Regions from separate parts of the Homo sapiens genome. Here region 2 is linked to region 1. Evidence: fine-mapped expression QTL. A gene starts in region 1. The other region holds a variant in brackets. All regions are shown on one strand. Distances are between the middles of the regions.

Evidence for each region. PIP is the estimated chance that this variant, and not a neighbour inherited with it, causes the effect.
Region 2: its variant is fine-mapped to the expression of ZNF135 in whole blood (INTERVAL, PIP above 0.99).

Annotation. Positions count from the first base shown.
Region 1 is chr19:58,054,451-58,062,776 of GRCh38, reverse strand. It overlaps ZNF135 (zinc finger protein 135), which reads right to left and starts at 3,495. Exons shown (of 5, transcript NM_001289401.2): 1 at 3,467-3,495; 2 at 2,742-2,808; 3 at 1,071-1,197. The coding sequence starts at 2,774. ZSCAN1 (zinc finger and SCAN domain containing 1) reads right to left here. Exons shown (of 6, transcript NM_182572.4): 6 at 8,146-8,326.
Region 2 is chr19:58,206,426-58,214,751 of GRCh38, reverse strand. ZNF274 (zinc finger protein 274) reads right to left here. Exons shown (of 8, transcript NM_133502.3): 5 at 7,550-8,032; 6 at 4,679-4,791; 7 at 3,066-3,192; 8 at 1,190-2,591. The coding sequence ends at 1,609. Among named protein-coding and RNA genes, the nearest start is that of ZNF544, 18 kb to the left of the region's middle. The variant C/T (reference allele first, on the strand shown) is at 5,200.

The DNA of each region.
Region 1 (8,326 bases):
AAGTGTGCAGTAAGTATGACTGTGCCACAGCACTCCACCCTGGGCAAGAGAACAAGACCCTGTTTCTTAAAAATAAAAAAGGTTCAGGCCGGACGCAGTGGCTCACGCCTGTAATCCCAGCACTTTGGGAGGCTAAGGTGGGTGCATCACGAGGTCAGGAGATCGAGACCATCCTGGCTAACACGGTGAAACCCCGTCTCTACTAAATATACAAAAAAAAAAAAAAATTAGCCAGGCGTGGTGGTGGGCACCTGTAGTCCCAGCTACTCAGGAAGATGAGGCAGGAGAATGGTGTGAACCCGGGAGGCAGAGCTTGCAGTGAGCCGAGATCGCACCACTGCACTCCAGCCCGGGTGACACAGCGAGACTCTGTCTCAAAAATAAAAAATTTAAAAACAAATAAATAAATAAATAAATAAATAAGGTTCAAATGTTAGAATGTAATACCTAATCTGATAGTGTTGAGGTGGGGCCTTGGGGAAGTGATTAATTCATGAGGGCTCCACTCATGAATGGGATCAGTGCCCTTATAAAAGAAGCTTGAGATAACTCCCTTGCCCTTATGGCATGTCAGGACACAGGAAGAAAGTGCCATCAGTGAGGAGCAAGCCCTCACCAAACACTGAATTTGCTGACACCTTGATCTTAGGCTTCCCAGCCTCCAGAACCATGAGCAACAAATATCTATTGTTTAAAATTACCCAGTCTAAGGTATTTTAGCAGCCCTAACAGACTAAGACAGAAGTGCAGAGGGAGGTGTTGAAGAAGGAGGGGCTCCTAACAGCTCTACAGAACACCCTGGTCTACCCTGGGATTCTGTAGTCTTCAGACCCAGTATGTTTCCCTCACCTCATGTTTCTCTGCTTCTGTTGATTTCAGGTTGAGTCTGAGACTTGCTAATATTGGTCTTAATTGATATTTCCTACATTAAAACAGTCAGGTTCTTAAAGCCCAAGACATACAGCCCCAGGCATTTGCTTTTAAAGCTCAGTCCTATAAATATTTAACCTGGTAGAATCAGAATCCGTGTCAGGGACAGATCAACAGATAGGACATGGGTGTGGCCTTACCCACAGAGACCAGAAGCCTGAAGGTGTCCAGCATTACATCACGGTACAGGGTCCTCTGGGCAGGCTTCAGCTGCCCCCACTCCTCCTGGCTGAAGCCCACTACCACGTCCTCAAACGTCACTTGCTCCTGAAACATCACACGAGTGTCCTCAGCCAAGCCAACCCTGGCACTGGCTGCTGGTGGGGTAGCTGGTAAATGCCAGCCAGGCTGGGTCGGATGGAGTTCCCTTTGGTCTGGGGTTTTGGGTCAGGTTTTTCTGTGGGGCCTGGATGGGTGCCCTGCTGATGAGGTGGAGGATCTTAGAATCTAAGGCATCATGCCCGTTTCCAATAATTTGTCTCTTGAAATAAGAAATGGAGGGAGCCAGCAATAAAGGAGTGGACCAGCCCAGCATGGTGTCGCATGCCCGTGGTCCCAGCTGCTTAACAGGCTGAGGTGGGAGGATCACTTGAGCACGTAAGTTTGAAGCACAGTGAGCCATGATTGCATCACTGCACTTCAGCCTAGGGGATAAACAAAGTTATAAAGCTAGTAGCAGAAGTCTAAAGACTGAATCTGGGTGGTTTTTTTTTTCCCCCGAGACGGAGTCTCGCTTTGTCGCCCAGGCTAGAGTGCAGTGGCATGATCTTGGCTCACTGCAAGCTCCGCCTCCTGGGTTCACGCCATTCTCCTGCCTCAGCCTCTCGAGTAGCTGGGACTACAGGCGCCCGCCACCCCCCCGGCTAATTTTTTTTTGTATTTTTAGTAGAGACGGGGTTTCACCGTGTTCGCCAGGATGGTCTCGATCTCCTGACCTCGTGATCCGCCCACCTCGGCCTCCCAAAGTGCTGGGATTACAGGTGCGAGCCACCGCGCCCGGCCAAATCTGGGTTTGTTTTTTAATTTTTTAGAGACAGGGTTCCACTGTCATTCAGGCTGGAGTGCAGTGGCACATCATGGCTCACTGCAGCCTCCAACTCCTGGGCTCAAGCAATCCTCCCCCATAGCTGGGATTACAGCTACAAGCCATCGCACCAGTCCCCTTGTACGGGTTTTCTGACATTCCTACAGGAGGCTGGTTTCTTCTGGTGGCTTATGGGTGGGGTTAATGTCATCATAAAAAGGCGAGTTCCGCCCCCTTGGCCTCCATGACGTCTGAGGAAGCGGCACTCGATGCGCCATCTTGGAGCGCAGAGCATGCTAAGGCCTTCAACTTCAGACTGCAGAGCCGGGGCACCTACAATTTTCTGACATCACCCAGCCTCAGGTATGCAATGACGGCCGCACAAACATAAAGCCCACTCAGACAGGGACCCGTGCCCGCTGACCTCCAGCGCGGCGTGGGCGGTCCTTTCAGAGGCAGGCTGTGGTTGGGGAGCTTGGCGCGGACTTTAGGAGGCCGGGTGTGCAGGTAGAGGCCGGACACGAGTAGAGGCTAGATGTGCAAATAGAGGCCGGGCACGAGTAGAGGCCGGGCACCAGTAGAGGCCAGGTGCGCGAGTAGAGGCCAGTTGTGCGAGTAGAGGCCGGGCACGAGTAGGGGCCGGGCACGCAAGTAGGGGCCGGGCACAAGGAGGAGGCTGAGCGCGAGTAGGGACGGGGTGCAAAGAGGAGGCCGGGCGTGAGAAGGCCGCGCGCGAGGAGGCCGGGCACGAGGTGGAGGACACGCGCAAGGAGGCCGAGATTCTCACCGGGTCTGTGGAGACGCGCACCCCAGGGGTCATGCCCTGGCTTCTGGCAGGAACGGCTGGCCCTGCTCTGTGGGAAAGGGGAGGTGAGCAGCTGGGGCAGGCAGAGGCGGTGCTCAGGTCCCCAAGCCGGGGAACTGCGCCAGAGCCTGGGGAGCTCCGCGGAGAGCCGTCCAGGGCCCCGCGTACCCGTTTAAGCGCCTGCTGTGTGTGGGGCGGCCCTCCGCTCGGAGAAGGGCAGCCTAGGGTTTTCCCGCCTGTCTGAGGGAAGCTGAAGGCCTGGCGGGTGCGGACACATATCTGCTGCGCAGACTCTGAGCCTTAACGCTACAGTGACAAGGGCCGGGTGGTTGCGGTCCCCTGGCCCTGGGCACTATGCCTCAGTTTCTCTCTTCCATCAACAAAGGTGGCGGCCCAGTGCCCGGTGTGGGGCAGAGGTGGGGCCAGGGGCGGGGCGCGCGTTCCCTCAGGGGCCGTCGGAGCAGCTCCTGTCCAGCTGGGCGTTGGGCCCCGCCCTCCTCTCAGACTAGGGATGCCCCGCAAAGCCTGCCCCCGCCAGCCCCGAAACGGCCTTCCCCAGGCCCCGGGCAGCAAAACGGACTCCACACAGACGCGCGCTGCTGGAAACTCGCCCCGCCAGGGCCTCAGGAAGATCCCCGGACCCCCCGCACCCGGCCCGGCCCGGCCCGGCCTGGCCTCCCCTCCCCCTCCTCGCCGGCCTAGCTCACCCTCCTGACTGCGAGACAAAGGCCGCGGCACCGGCAGCCGACACTGCGCCGGCGCGAGCCTAACTCCATTTCCCAGAGAGCCGCGCGCGCATTTCCGGCCGCCCTCCCCCACCTCGCTCTCGCCCTTGGCGTTCGTGAGCTCTCAGTGCTGCTGGAGCTGGAGTGACTGGGCCTGGTGAAACAGGGCGCGCGGGGTGCCTGGGCATCAACGCGGGATAAGTGCCGCTTGGAACGCCGTGAGCTCCCGGCGCGACCACACGGGCTTTCGTGTTGGAAACTCTACCGTCAGTTTTACTGCTGCAAACAAAGCAATGATTTTTTCAAAACACATACTTTCAACCAAAACATTCACCAAGATCGCACACACGGGAGTCTTTGCATTTTCCACACTGAGGCAGCCATGGAGACTTCACACTGTATTTATTACATGGTTATAAGGAACATCACGTGCAAGACACTAACAATTATGACGACTTTGGACATTGCTAGGTAATTGTCAAAATTGTGCATTTGAACAGCAGCAAAATATTCAAAGCTGGTGTGCCCTCGCTGACACGAAATGAATTGTCATTTTCTGAACATTCACCAAAGCCTGCCAGGCGCTAGGCCTAGGTTCAGCAGCACACAATAGTGAAGCCCCCATTCAAGCGGGCTTCGTTTCACCAGCGTACGTCACACGTCCGTGGAGCAGCGAGACCAGAGGAGCTGGGAAAGCCAGGGCTGAGCCTTGTGCTTTTGCCCTTTTAAGGGAGGACAGATTAATTCCAATCAGCCTGGGCTTGGGAGCTGTATTTGAAGCAGAGGAAAAGTTTTAAGACGGGCATTTTTTTTTCTTTGACTGAAACAACTCTGAAAACAGCAGAGAACACAATACGAATTCTCGTACCACACACAGACACTTGCAAAGATTTGGCTGGTTAACACACAAGTTAAGACTTTAAATTTCATAAGCCCTAAAACAGTGGCAATTATGAAGAGATATAATGGCTCAAAATCATAATGCACTGATGTAAACAAAGCAAAGGCAAGCTTCTTGGCTTTTAAGGGCGTCCTGTACATTCCAAGTACTGTAAAGCCCCACATTTGTGACCGTCGCACTGAAAGCCAGCCTGCTTTTCACTCTACAGCAGTAAAGAGGCTTTCCATTATACATAAAATGCCGTTTTTCAGTTCTCGAACTCACAAACCCAAATGCCACAAAACATCTTTTTGTGTATTTTTTCTTTCACAAAATGTATACTCTTGCCCCCCACCCCCACCCCCAACCGTTTCCTTTTACTGGATCAAAAGGTATGAACACACAACTCATGGTGAAGTCTTTTTCCCAAGCGGTCTGATAGTCCTGGTGAGAAGCTGTCAGTGGTGCCACACTGAGCCTGCTCAGCCCTGATGGTGGCCAGGCGGCCCTGCCCAGCTCCCTCAAACTTGCCCCTCTGTTTCCTCCCTCAGACCTTCTGATCCTCTGTTTTTCTCAGCCAGGTTTCTAAACCGTACATGCTTTTGCAGGGGCGGGCTCTTTCTACAGGGGCAAGTGCTGCTTGGCTCCAGCCAAGTGGGGTCGTGCGGACTGGCAAGCCCAGCGTCCCAGGTCTGGATTTCTCTAAAGAACCCAGAGATCAGGATTTCTATGTGAAATCTCTTGATTTTTAAAAGCTGGTAGGGATTTCAAAGGCTTTAATAACACTCTACCAGTCAAATAAGATGAGCTGGAGGCTACTCCAGTGCCACCCTTGCTGTGGTCTGAACCTCCTGCTGTCTCTTGTAACCACTGGCTGGGCCCCTCTCAGCTCCTTCTTGGCTTCCTGTACGAATCTCCAAGCAGAGCATTGCTGGTTGCCTCTCTGTGGCCTGGAACAGGACCCCCCACCATGAGCAGGTGGGCTGCACATCAGTACAGCTTCCAAGCAATCCTGCAATCACAGCATGGATAGCAGAACTGTGTCATGCTGTATGTTAATGTTCAAAAAGTTAATCTGTTCAACACATACATTTAAAATATACTGTAACAGTTACAGCTCCCTGGACATATTTCTCCCTTTAAAAAAAAAATCTTTTTGACAGCTTCAAAACCTGGCAGTGTCCAGGCCTCCTCTGACCCAAGAGACCCTGGCTGCCAGGGAGAAAGGTGGCGTCTGAGACTCCGGTCTTCCAGAGCGTGAAGTGCCCAGGGCTGGGCTCACAGCTCCTGTGACAAGGGCTGGAGGACAGGAGACTGGGGCACATCGTGATGGGGGTGTTGGAGTCTTTGGGGGGTGCTGGCAGAGGAAGGCACAGGGCAAGGGAGGCGTGCTGAGGTGCTGGGGCTTCCACAGCTGGGGTGAACCCAAAGAGAAGAGAGGGGCTAGTGCTCTGTCTCACTGCAGCTCGGGCAGGGGCTTGGGACTGGGCAAGTTAGGTGAAGAACACCACGTGGTGGCTTTCGTGAGTTGCAGCAGCTGCCACAACTGGTCCAGCACCCTGGGCCAAGTCCTTGCTTCTGTCAGCCAAGGTGTAGCACGTGAGAGTGGCCCTCCAGGACCCTGGGCCACGTCCTTGCTTCTGTCAGCCAAGGTGGAGCACACAAGAGTGGCCCTCCAGGATCCTGGGCCACGTCCTTGCTTCCGTCAGCCAAGGTGGAGCACACAAGAGTGGCCCTCCAGGACCCTGGGCCACGTCCTTGCTTCTGTCAGCCAAGGTGGCGCACACAGGAGTGGCCCTCCAGGATCCTGGGCCACGTCCTTGCTTCCGTCAGCCAAGGTGGAGCGCATTGAGAGTGGCCCTCAAGGGGTGGCCCACCTCCCCTCAGAGGTCGAGGGAGGCTTCCCCGGCTGGAAACTGCAGCCCACAATGGTGTCCCGGTGTCTCCACAGGGACTTCCCCTCACTCATTGAGTCACTCATCCCTTCACTCTGTAGGACCTGTTGTATGCTGGGTGTGGTCAAGTATGGCAGTGGAGACTGTTCTAGGCACAGGAGGAGGCCAGGGTGAGAGGCAGTGTGGAGTCAGGTGGAGACACAGTGAGTTAAGGACACCAGCCTCCACCATCCCAGTGCTGGGGGCTGTGGAGGCAGCAGGGCCACAAAGGACACTATAGAGCTACCCTGCTGGGCTTTGTCTTTTCAGTGTCTGCATTTTAGAGGGACCCTGTTGGCTGCAGGATGGGGATGGGGCAGAGGGAACGGGCTGGAGGCAGAGTTTGCTTAGAGGCAGCTGCAGGCATTCAAGAAATGGGGAGAGAGCCTGGGGCTGATGGTGCAGAGGAGAAAAGAGAACTGAGAGGGATTGGGAGCTGGGTTCCCAGGGCAATCAAAAATCCTTGTGGGGCCTTGGAAGGTGGTGGTCCCTCTGAGGGGAGTGGGAACCCCAGAGGGGAGGCAGTTTGCGTTGTTTTCTTTGTTGTTGTTTTTTGTTTTTGCACAAGGGAAGATGAGTTATTTGGACAAACTCAATTGGAGAACTGAGGGACACCAGATGGATGTCTCTGGGGCCAGCCCAGGTAGGCTGGAGCCTGACTGATGCCTCGTGTTCAATGGCACCCACTTTCTTGTGCAACTCTGGCACCAACAAACTGAGCTGTGATTGTGCCTCCAGCAGGTGGAGACCGAGATGGAAACAGCATGGAATGAGCCCCTGGCTCCCAACAAGTGGGGGCACTCGGGAGAGCTATCTCTACACATCCCGTTGTCTGAGACGATCAATCTGCGCCTGAGAGAAGGCTCAGGGGGGCTTCCGAGAGTAATGGGCTGACTGCGGGGCCAAGACCCCACCCTCCATCCTGAGCTCTGTAGAAGAAGCTCCTCCTTTGCAGGATGAGAGAGAAGGTGCCAGGAGGGGAGCTGGAGCCCACCAGCAATTAAGGCATAGGATAGAGCCAGGAGCCCCCAGTGGGGACTGCAGGGAAAAGCTGGGGATGCCTGAGGGAGCCGGGAAGCAAGGTCCGGAGGCGCGGTTAGGGGGCGCTCCGAGAAGGCAAGCGTGAGAAGGCAAGCGCGGCAGCGAGGATGAAGTGAAGGCAGCGGTGGGTCCGTGGGACCTGCACAGCCCGAGAGGGCCATCGGGGACAGAGGCCGAGAGTGGGGGCAGCTTGGTTGAGAAGCAGCAGCAGGCGGATGTGACGTGGGTAAGTCCAAAGGCTTTTGATTTAGAAGGCGACTTGGAAAAATGTCTCTGCCTGTGCGGATTCACAGTCAGCCCAACACTGTGTTTCCAAGTGAAGTCGGGAGGAGAAAAAGAAAAAGGCAAAAACTTTTAAGGCTTTTGCTTGAAAGGGGACGAGTGTCCGACAACAATGAGTTGGGGACGGGTGAGAAGCCGAGTCCGAGGCTGGCTCCCCGCTGTGACGTCACCGCCTGCCCACACTCTGCTCCAGCCTAGCAGGAGAGGCGGGCCCACTCTTTGGAGACCATCTGATCCTTCCTGGCAGACCAGAAAGCCAGATTTTTATGGTTTAAACAAATGTTGGCATCTATCTAAAAAAAAAATCCTTCTGTAAGTCAAACAAAATACAGGCAGGTCAGTTTTGGTCAGGCCTAAAGACTGCGCCTGAAATCCTCAGAGACAGGAAGCAGATTCTGGTTGTCAGGGCGGGCAGGAATGGCGAAGGCGTGCTGAGGACTGTGGGCTCTCTTTCTGGGCAAGACGAAAACATCTTTGGAGCTAGAGAGTGCTGGTAGTTGCACAGTGTTGTGAATGTGCTTAATGCCACTGAACTGTTCATTTTTAATGACTGAAATGGTAAATTTTATGTTGCATGTACTTTACCCAAAAAAGGAAAAAAACAAAACCCTGTTTATCTGTTAGGTTCCAAGGGGGCTAAGCTGGCAGGAGGGCAGCCGGGGTCAGCTGTACCCTTCTCTGGAGTTGGAGCTGCCCAGGCCGGCT
Region 2 (8,326 bases), 150 kb before region 1:
CTTTGGACTCACCCCTCAGTCTAGGATTTGGAATCTGGGAATTTTTAGTTTACCAGGTTCTAATCTCAAGGGTCCCATTCTTTGGTTCATTCTTGAGAGGTGATATTGTAGAGTTCTGAACAGCTGAGGAGGCTGTTTTTACCAACTAACGTCCCTGGGCAAGTTCTTCAACTGTGTATGTTCTCAAAGAAGCTAACATGTGCCATATTAAAGTGCTGAAATGACTAGAAGCAACATAGCAACCACAAGCCCTGTGCCCAATGTGTGAATGGCAATAGGGCTGCTGGTGTACCACCATCATTCTCCAGGCACATGGGCTCAAGGTATCTACTCTGGTCCTGTCTCCAAGGGTTTTTCACTTCTGCAGAGAAAGGAGGTACTCTCATCCTAGATGGCACGACTGCACCTCACCCTTGTTGGCAAGACCCAAGGGTTCTAAAGAGGCTATGCAGAGTAGCACTCAACCAGTGTCTTGAACCTAAGTATTTTTGATCCAGAGTTTTATGTTAAATGTTACATGGAACTCAAGAGCAAAGGTGGAGCCTAGAACAAGGAATGGAGCGGGTCATATACTGTGGGCTATGTGACCTGGAGAAAGAATGTGAACTGTGGGCAAGTACATGCTCTAGTATTGCCAGTGTCTTTTTGCTTAACTTAGTGATGGGCTCCTGGCCAGAGCAGTTGCCTTCCTTGTGATAGTCTCTCAGGAAAAATGGAAACACAAACCAAATGAAGCTAGGCATGGTGGTGCATGCCTATAGTCCCAGCTACTTGAAAGACTGAGCCAGGAGGATCTTTGAGCCCAGGTGATCCTTTGAGCCCAGGTGTTCGAGGCTACAGTAAGCTATGATTCTACCTCTGCACTCAAACCTGGGTGACAGGATGAGATTCTGTGCGAAAAATAACAAAAGAAACATGAATATTCCCAGGAAGCCCCACACTTGCCTGGGGTTTCCAGCCCTTTGGGTTTAAATTTTCCTTACCTCCACCTAACCATATCATGACAACCCCCTAAGGAGCAGAAAGATTCAGTCATCCCAACTCACATAGTATCTTGTGCCCAAGGTGCTGCAGCCTTGCACAGAATCTTCTAGAACTATCTGATGATCTCCTTCCTTGTGTTTTAATGTTGCTTAAATATTAATCATTACTATAGAGATATTTAAGCAGGCAGGAAATACACAGGTTCTACACAGACATAGATCAATAGTTTATTTATCCACATTATCTTTTAATCCTTAATTCATACACATAAATACTGTGGTACTGTGGATGTAATATCAGTGCAGATTATTAATTACCTGGCTTTTTAAAGTTATTATATAACATTTTCAGATTTTATTAATCTCACTTTTAATGACTAAATGAGTGAACAAACAATATCAAGTGAATGGGAAATCTTTTTTCCAAATGATGTTAATAACTCCTCACTCATTTTCTTATTTATTCATTATGTGCTGGGCAGTCTCCTCAGTTGTCCTTTGGTTTTGGGAATGTCCTCACTCAATACTTCCCTTTCACATTCAGTCCTGATTCACAAGCAGGCCTGTGCATGTTATATTGCAGGGTCAAGCTGAAAAGGCAAGGTTTCTTCAACTGGCTTGAGAGCTATGAGGTAGGCTGTTTCTTCTTTCGCTTTGTCCTATTGTGGGTTCTCTGGTGCCCAATAAGGTGTGAGCTCTGGGTGAAGGCCTTTCCACATTTGTTGCATGCATATGGGCGCTCCCCGGTGTGAGTCCTCTGATGTCTGATGAGGTGGGAGCTCTGGCGGAAGGCTTTTCCACAGTCCTGACACTTGTAGGGCTTAGCGCCAGTGTGAGTCCTCAGGTGCTGGGAGATGGCTGAGCGATCATTGAAGGTCCTCCCACACTCCTGACATTCAAATGGTCTCTCTCCAGAATGAACTCTCTGATGCTGTGTGAGGGAAGAGCTCTGAACAAATCCTTTCCCACAGTCTTGACACACATAGGGCCTCTCTCCGGTATGGATTTTCTTATGCACAGAAAAGTATCTTGGGTTCCGGAATATTTTACCACATTCACTGCATCGGCAAACTTGGCTCCCCTTGTGAATTCTTATAAACGTAATCTGTTTAGTACTCCGACTGAAGGTTTTCCTACAACCATTGCCTTCCTTGGCCTTTTGCCTTTCACAGCTCTTCTGATGAATTTTTACACGTGAATTATGTTTCATACTTTTAACTTGTGAGTCACGTTTGCGCAATCGTTTTCTAGGAGGAATTTTGTGGAGCAAAACTTGGTTTGTGTCAAGAGCGCCACTGTTTGCCTGGGACTCAGGGTTGTCAATTTTCTGGAGCGAAACTTGGTTTGTGTCAAGAGCACCACTGTTTGCCTGGGACTCACGGTTGTCAAAGTGCTTCTTCTGAGGAAGGTCTTTTTCCTGAGCAGACTCCATCTGCTTCAACACTGTGTCTTGGACTTCCTGGACCCCACCCTGCAAGGTATCTTCTAATGTAGAGGACAAGGCACAATCCCTTGAGGATTCTTGTACTTTCAGGCTGGGGGCTGGTTCTTCCTCAGGAATGTCAGAATTTGGAGCTAACTCTTTATTTTCCAGTGTAGTCTCCCACCCTGAAAAAAATAAACAAAAGATGTGGATCCCATAGAGAGATGTGCTGGGATGGGTCTGAGAGCATGAAATGCATAATTAAGTTCAAAAGTCAGGATTTTTTTTTTCTCCCAAATAGAGTCATGCAACCTGGAGAGAGACTGAAAAGCAATGAAGCGGCAGGGAGGGGAGCACTGACCTTGGTGAACAAGGGACAGGAAGGGCAGGGAGTGTCCTCCGAGCTCTTCGAGTTCCTGTTCTCTCATACTCCCTCAGGAGATAGATAGCAAATCACTCCTTCACCGGACCTAAGGCTGCTTCTGGCCACCCAGTGACCTCACCCCTCTAGGTCTACAGTTCCACTTACAGGCCCTGGATGCAGCAAGGGCCCCTTGAGGGAATGCCCAGTGTGGAGTCTAGAGAAGGTGAACACCCCTGACTTGGGGCTCCTGTGGCCTACCAGCCCTGAGGTGGGTGAAGAGGGGGCACAGCCTTACCCACAGAGACCAGGTGCCCAAAGGTCTCCAGCATCACATCGCGGTACTCGGTCCTCTGTGTCGGGCCCAGCAGCCCCCACTCCTCCCGGCTGAAGTCCACAGCCACATCCTGGAAGGTCACTGGCTCCTGTAACATCACATATGTGTCTATGCTCAGCAAGAGGGTCAGAGGGTTGTCAATGAGGGCAGAAGAAAGGCCAGCTGGGAGGTTCTGACAGAGCTCACGGTGCTAGGGACTCTCCTGCTTTGGGGATTTGCTCAGAGACACCAACCCAGGGCCCACAAGAGTTCTACTGGGTCCAAACCAGGGTCTGGGTCTCAGGCTGGGAGGCAGAGCCCTTGCTTCATAAAGAGCTCCAAGTGCAACAAGCAAACAACTCCATCCTAACCACGGCTCTATCCAGCTTGCCCATTGCTGAAATCTTCCCACTGCAGAGGGTTCTCCATCTATTAATACTGTCTTCCCACTTGGTGGAAATGACAACCAAGCCCCTGCCTTTGTCGACAGGGCTGACCTGGGGGAGGGCAGTCACCCTGGCACAGCCATGACTGGTCCTTTCTGGGGAACTGACCAGGACTTTGGGAAGAAGAGGTACCCCCAACGCTGCTTTGCCAGGATCTGAGGCATTTTGCTTACATGGGGCAGAATCTGCCTAAGAAGAAAGGGGAGTGGCCACGCGCAGTGGCTCACACCTATAATCCCAGCACATTGGGAGGCCAAGGCGGGTGGATCACCTGAGGTCAGGAGTTCGAGACCAGCCTGGCCAACATGGTGAAACCCCGTCTCTATTAAAAATACCAAAAATTAGCCGGGTGTAGTGGCAGCTGTCTGTAATCCCAGCTACTCAGGAGGCTGAGACAGGAGAATCACTTGAACCTGGGAGGCAGAGGTTGCAGTGAGCTGAGATCGCGCCATTGCACTCCAGCCTGGGCAACAAGAGTGAAACTCCATCTCAAAAAAAAAGAAGAAGAAAGGGGAGAAAGCAGAGCCATGAAACAGGTTGGCCAGAGATTCTTCCCATCACCTGGGAGCACCTGGATGCAGCCTTGCCTGAAGCCTACCAGAGAATACATGAGAGCCAATAAATTGACTTCTACGCTTGAGCCAGTATAAGCCATTTGCAGTGCAAACAGGTCTGACCAATGACACATACATACCACTACCCCAGTGGTCAGCGCATCAGGACCAATCTTTTTCACCCACACCCCAGCTCTGGGTTATTCTGAAGCAAATCCCAGATACCAAAGATAAATACCTAAGTATGCATTTCTGAAGGTTGAGGGCTCTCTTGTTCTGACCTGGATACAGATGTGCCTGCCTGTGGTAGTTCCACCTCTCAAGTCTCTGTAAACACTTAGTCCCTTCCCTCTTGCCTCCTGCTTTCTCAGCTCCCGGGTCACCATGCGTTGTCTCCAGTGATGCCACAGTGGCTGGAGGGCAGGGCTGCTCTTCATACTCAGATTGCTTCAGCACAGACCTAAGAGCTCAGAATCTCAGAATGTCCCAGCCTGTGGGAGGTCTTAGGAAAGCCCAGGGCAGAGTGGATGCCTCAGGGGTGGGCCTGCCTCACAGGAGATGCTGTGACCAAAACAGGGTGATACTCCCCGCTTACCTCAGGGAGCACTGTCACTGGGCAGATGGCTGCATCCTCCTGCTTCTCCTCCTGCTGGGCAGTGACCTCGAGGCAGCAGGTGGTGCCCTCGGCAGGTTGTCCTGCAGGAAGTACTGGGAGGAGACACCAGCCAGAGGAGGTCAGCAGGTGTGGGGACCCTTAGGCAGGGCAAGGGTGGCCTCTCTGCAACCCATGGGGCCACCGCACCCCTGCATCGTACTGTGGCTCCATGACAGCCTCTGCTCCTGTCCTCCCTTCCCACCAGCTCTGCTCCCCTCACAGCACGTGCCCGAGTGCCCACACCTGGATGGGCCCGGGATGGCTCACCCTCCAAGGGTCACAGGGCACCAGTGTCCTCACTGCTGAGACTCTGGTCCCACTCCTTCCCTTTCCGGGGGCTGCTGAGGGCCCCAGCCCCTCCTGTGAGGCAGCTGACTGACGCCCCCTCCTTAGAGTCAAAGCCCCTGTTTCCGGCCTCCAAGCCCTGCACCCTGCCTATTTGGGCACCTCTTCCTTCTTCC[C/T]TCTCTCCTCCCACCTCATGGAAGGTGAGACTTTCCCTGGACCCATGAAATGCAGCCATCTTGAGGTGAACGTCACCAAGTCTCCTCCACCTAAGAAAACAACAGCTCCACCTGGCCCAAGGGCCCCTGTAACCACGGCTCCTTCATTCTAACCTTCCTCACATGACCCCAAATGGTCCACAGGCTTCCACAATGCTAATCTACCCCCACCATCAAGGTGGGCCACAAGATGACTTAGGCTGGCACACTGGACCATCCCTTTCTCTTGGCCACAGTGATTAGATCTGGGATGAACACAGCCTATAGCCAGATGATTGGAGCCAACAAGGCCTTAGTTGGAACATTTGGGAAAGAGAAATCCCATGCAGGGAGACAGCCTGCCCATGATGAAGCCAGTGGAGGGCAGAAGAGGTAAGAATGAGGGACAGGACAAGTCTGGAGGACACTATTGGAGCTCCTGGGTCCAGCCCTGCCTGATGCTCGAGCACCCTGGAACTTTTCCAATAAATTCTCCTTCTCCCTTGAGCCATTCTGTGCAAGGCTTTGCAGCAGTCACACTCAAGCGTCCCAACTAACACACTGATCACATAATGTGAGATTCTCAGGGTTCTCTGGAAAGCCTCTTCCCATTGTCTTCTGTGGCACTAATTTATTTTATTCACCCCTGAGGTTAAACACAGGGTGAATTCACTGACTTTCACCTCATTAACCCCACAACTGTCTCCTTGGCACCTAACTAACTAGTTTCCTATTGCTGTTATAGTGAATTGCCACAATGCCAGCGGCTCAGATTAATGCAAATGTATTACCTTATGGTTCTGGAGATGAGAAGTCTGGTTTGTGCCTCACTGGGCTAAAATGAAGGTGTCAGCATGGCTATGTTCCTTTTGGAGGCTCCAAGGGAGAATCCATTCCTTGCCTTTTCCAGCTTCTAGAGGCTGCCCCAAACATTTGGCTTATGGCTTCTTCCTCTATCAGCTGCTCCTATCATTACATCTCCTCTGACCCTCCAGCCTCCCTCTCCTAAGGGCCCCTGTGGTTATGTTAGATCCACTCAAATAATCCAGTGCATCTCTCCCTCTCAAGATCCTTAATTGTTTCTGCAAAGTCCCCTTTGTCATGTGAGGCAACTTATTCACAGGGTCCAGGAGTCAGGACATGGACACCTTTGGGGCAATTATTCTGCCAAGTACAGCACCCCAGACTTGGTGCATCTGACACAACTCATGCAAGTGCCTGCCCTGCTGCCTCGGATACCCGATCTCCAGGATGCCCTGGCCTCTTAGAATCCCACCATCCCCCTGCAGGATACCTTCCCCTTTCCTGCAATCACAAACATCAACCAGTCAATCATTCGTTCACATCAGAAACATCTTCTGGGCACCCGTGAAATGTGGAAAATGGAGGTGAGCAATGCAGAAGCATGCACGCTCTGTGAAACTCAGCCTGATGAAGAAACCAAGTCTTGCAGTCTTATTCCCAAATACACACTCCACACGTGTAGTCTCTCCCCAGTCAGACATCACCATCACTCCTATCCAAGACACCACCCCATCAGAGGGCATGGCAATAGCTGCGGGTAGCCTGTGTCCAGCCTCGCCCCCATCCTCTGTCCACCATCCACCACACATGCAGCCTGGTAAATCTCTAAAGGTCAAATCCAGTGGTGCCACCAGTTTCTGGAACTCAGGGATCGAGCCCTACTGTTTTAGAAGAACATTTTGCTTTGCTTTAGGACTAAAGTCCCCACTGGCAGTGCCAGCTCCAACCTCTGCTCCCTTCCATCACAAACATAACCGATTTTTCTGAGTTTTGCATTTACTGTGATCCCTTCCATCTTGGCCCTTACAGGCAGTGCTCCCCTCTGCATGGCACATCTTTCCTGCCCCCTTTCTTTACCCTGGCCAAGTTCCACTCCACACCAGGTGTCAGCTGCAGACCTTCATAAGCCTCACCATCACCTCGAGCTCCTCATAGTCCCAGCATTTTTCTATGCATTCTCATTTGTCAAATCCCTGTCTCTCCTGCTACTGCGGGCTCTCTGAGCTCAGTATTCCCATCTATCTTATCAAGTGCTACAGGGCTTATGGTGCAGCAGGGATGCCAGAGGGATAAAAATGAAGCACTTCATCTGTGTGCTTCCATCAGAAGCCCACGAAGGGCTAAAGAATGCAAGGGTTTCAGTGGCTCTGACTCAGGAACACGTGGGCAACATGGATGTCCTTGGTCTGTATGGAGCGGACACAATCCTTCCCATGACCTTCCTAGGAAGCCTGGAGTTCTTATCTCCCCCACAGGGTACTCCAAGACACCCTCATTAAGCTGTCCCTCTACCCACCCTTCTACTTACCTTCCTCCTCAGACATCCAGGTCACACCCTCTACCAGGGCCACCACCTCTTGGCAGTTCTCTGGGTGCTGCGATTCCACCCATGTCCGGAGCTTCACAGGCAGTGCACCTAGGAACTGCTCCAGCACCAGCAGCTCCAGGATCTGCTCCTTGGAGCGTGCCTTAGGCTGTAGCCACTGGTGACACAGCTCTCGGAGCTGGTCCAGGGCCTCCCGGGGACCTGTCATGTCCTTATAACGGAACTGCCGGAACCTCTGGCGCGCGGCCTCAGGGTCACCTGGATGCTTGCCCTGCTGTTGGACCTGCTCACTGGGGGCATCTGCACTCAGGCTTCCATCTTCAGCATATAGGGCCTGGATCTGGGCATTCCGGGGACCAGCCACCTCCTGGTTCAGTGTGAGGACCTCAACAACCTCAATGTTCATTAGGGGACTCTCAGCAGGAAGAGGATCCAATTTAGGGTCCAGCTGGAGCTCAGGATACTCTGTAAGTCAAAAGCAGAGCAAGACAAATGAGAACAAGCACATGAAAAGATGCTCAACGCCATTATTCACTAGGGAAATGCAAGTCAAAACCACAGTGGAATATGCTTCAAACCCACTAGCATGGCTGTTACCAAAGACAGATGATAACAGGAGAGGATGTGGAAAAACTAGAATGCTCACACACTGTTGGTGGGAACATAAAATGCTGTACCACTCTGCAAAACAGGTTGGTAAATCCTCAGAAGTTAAACACATAGTTATCCATGACCCAGACATTCCCCCCAAGTATATAT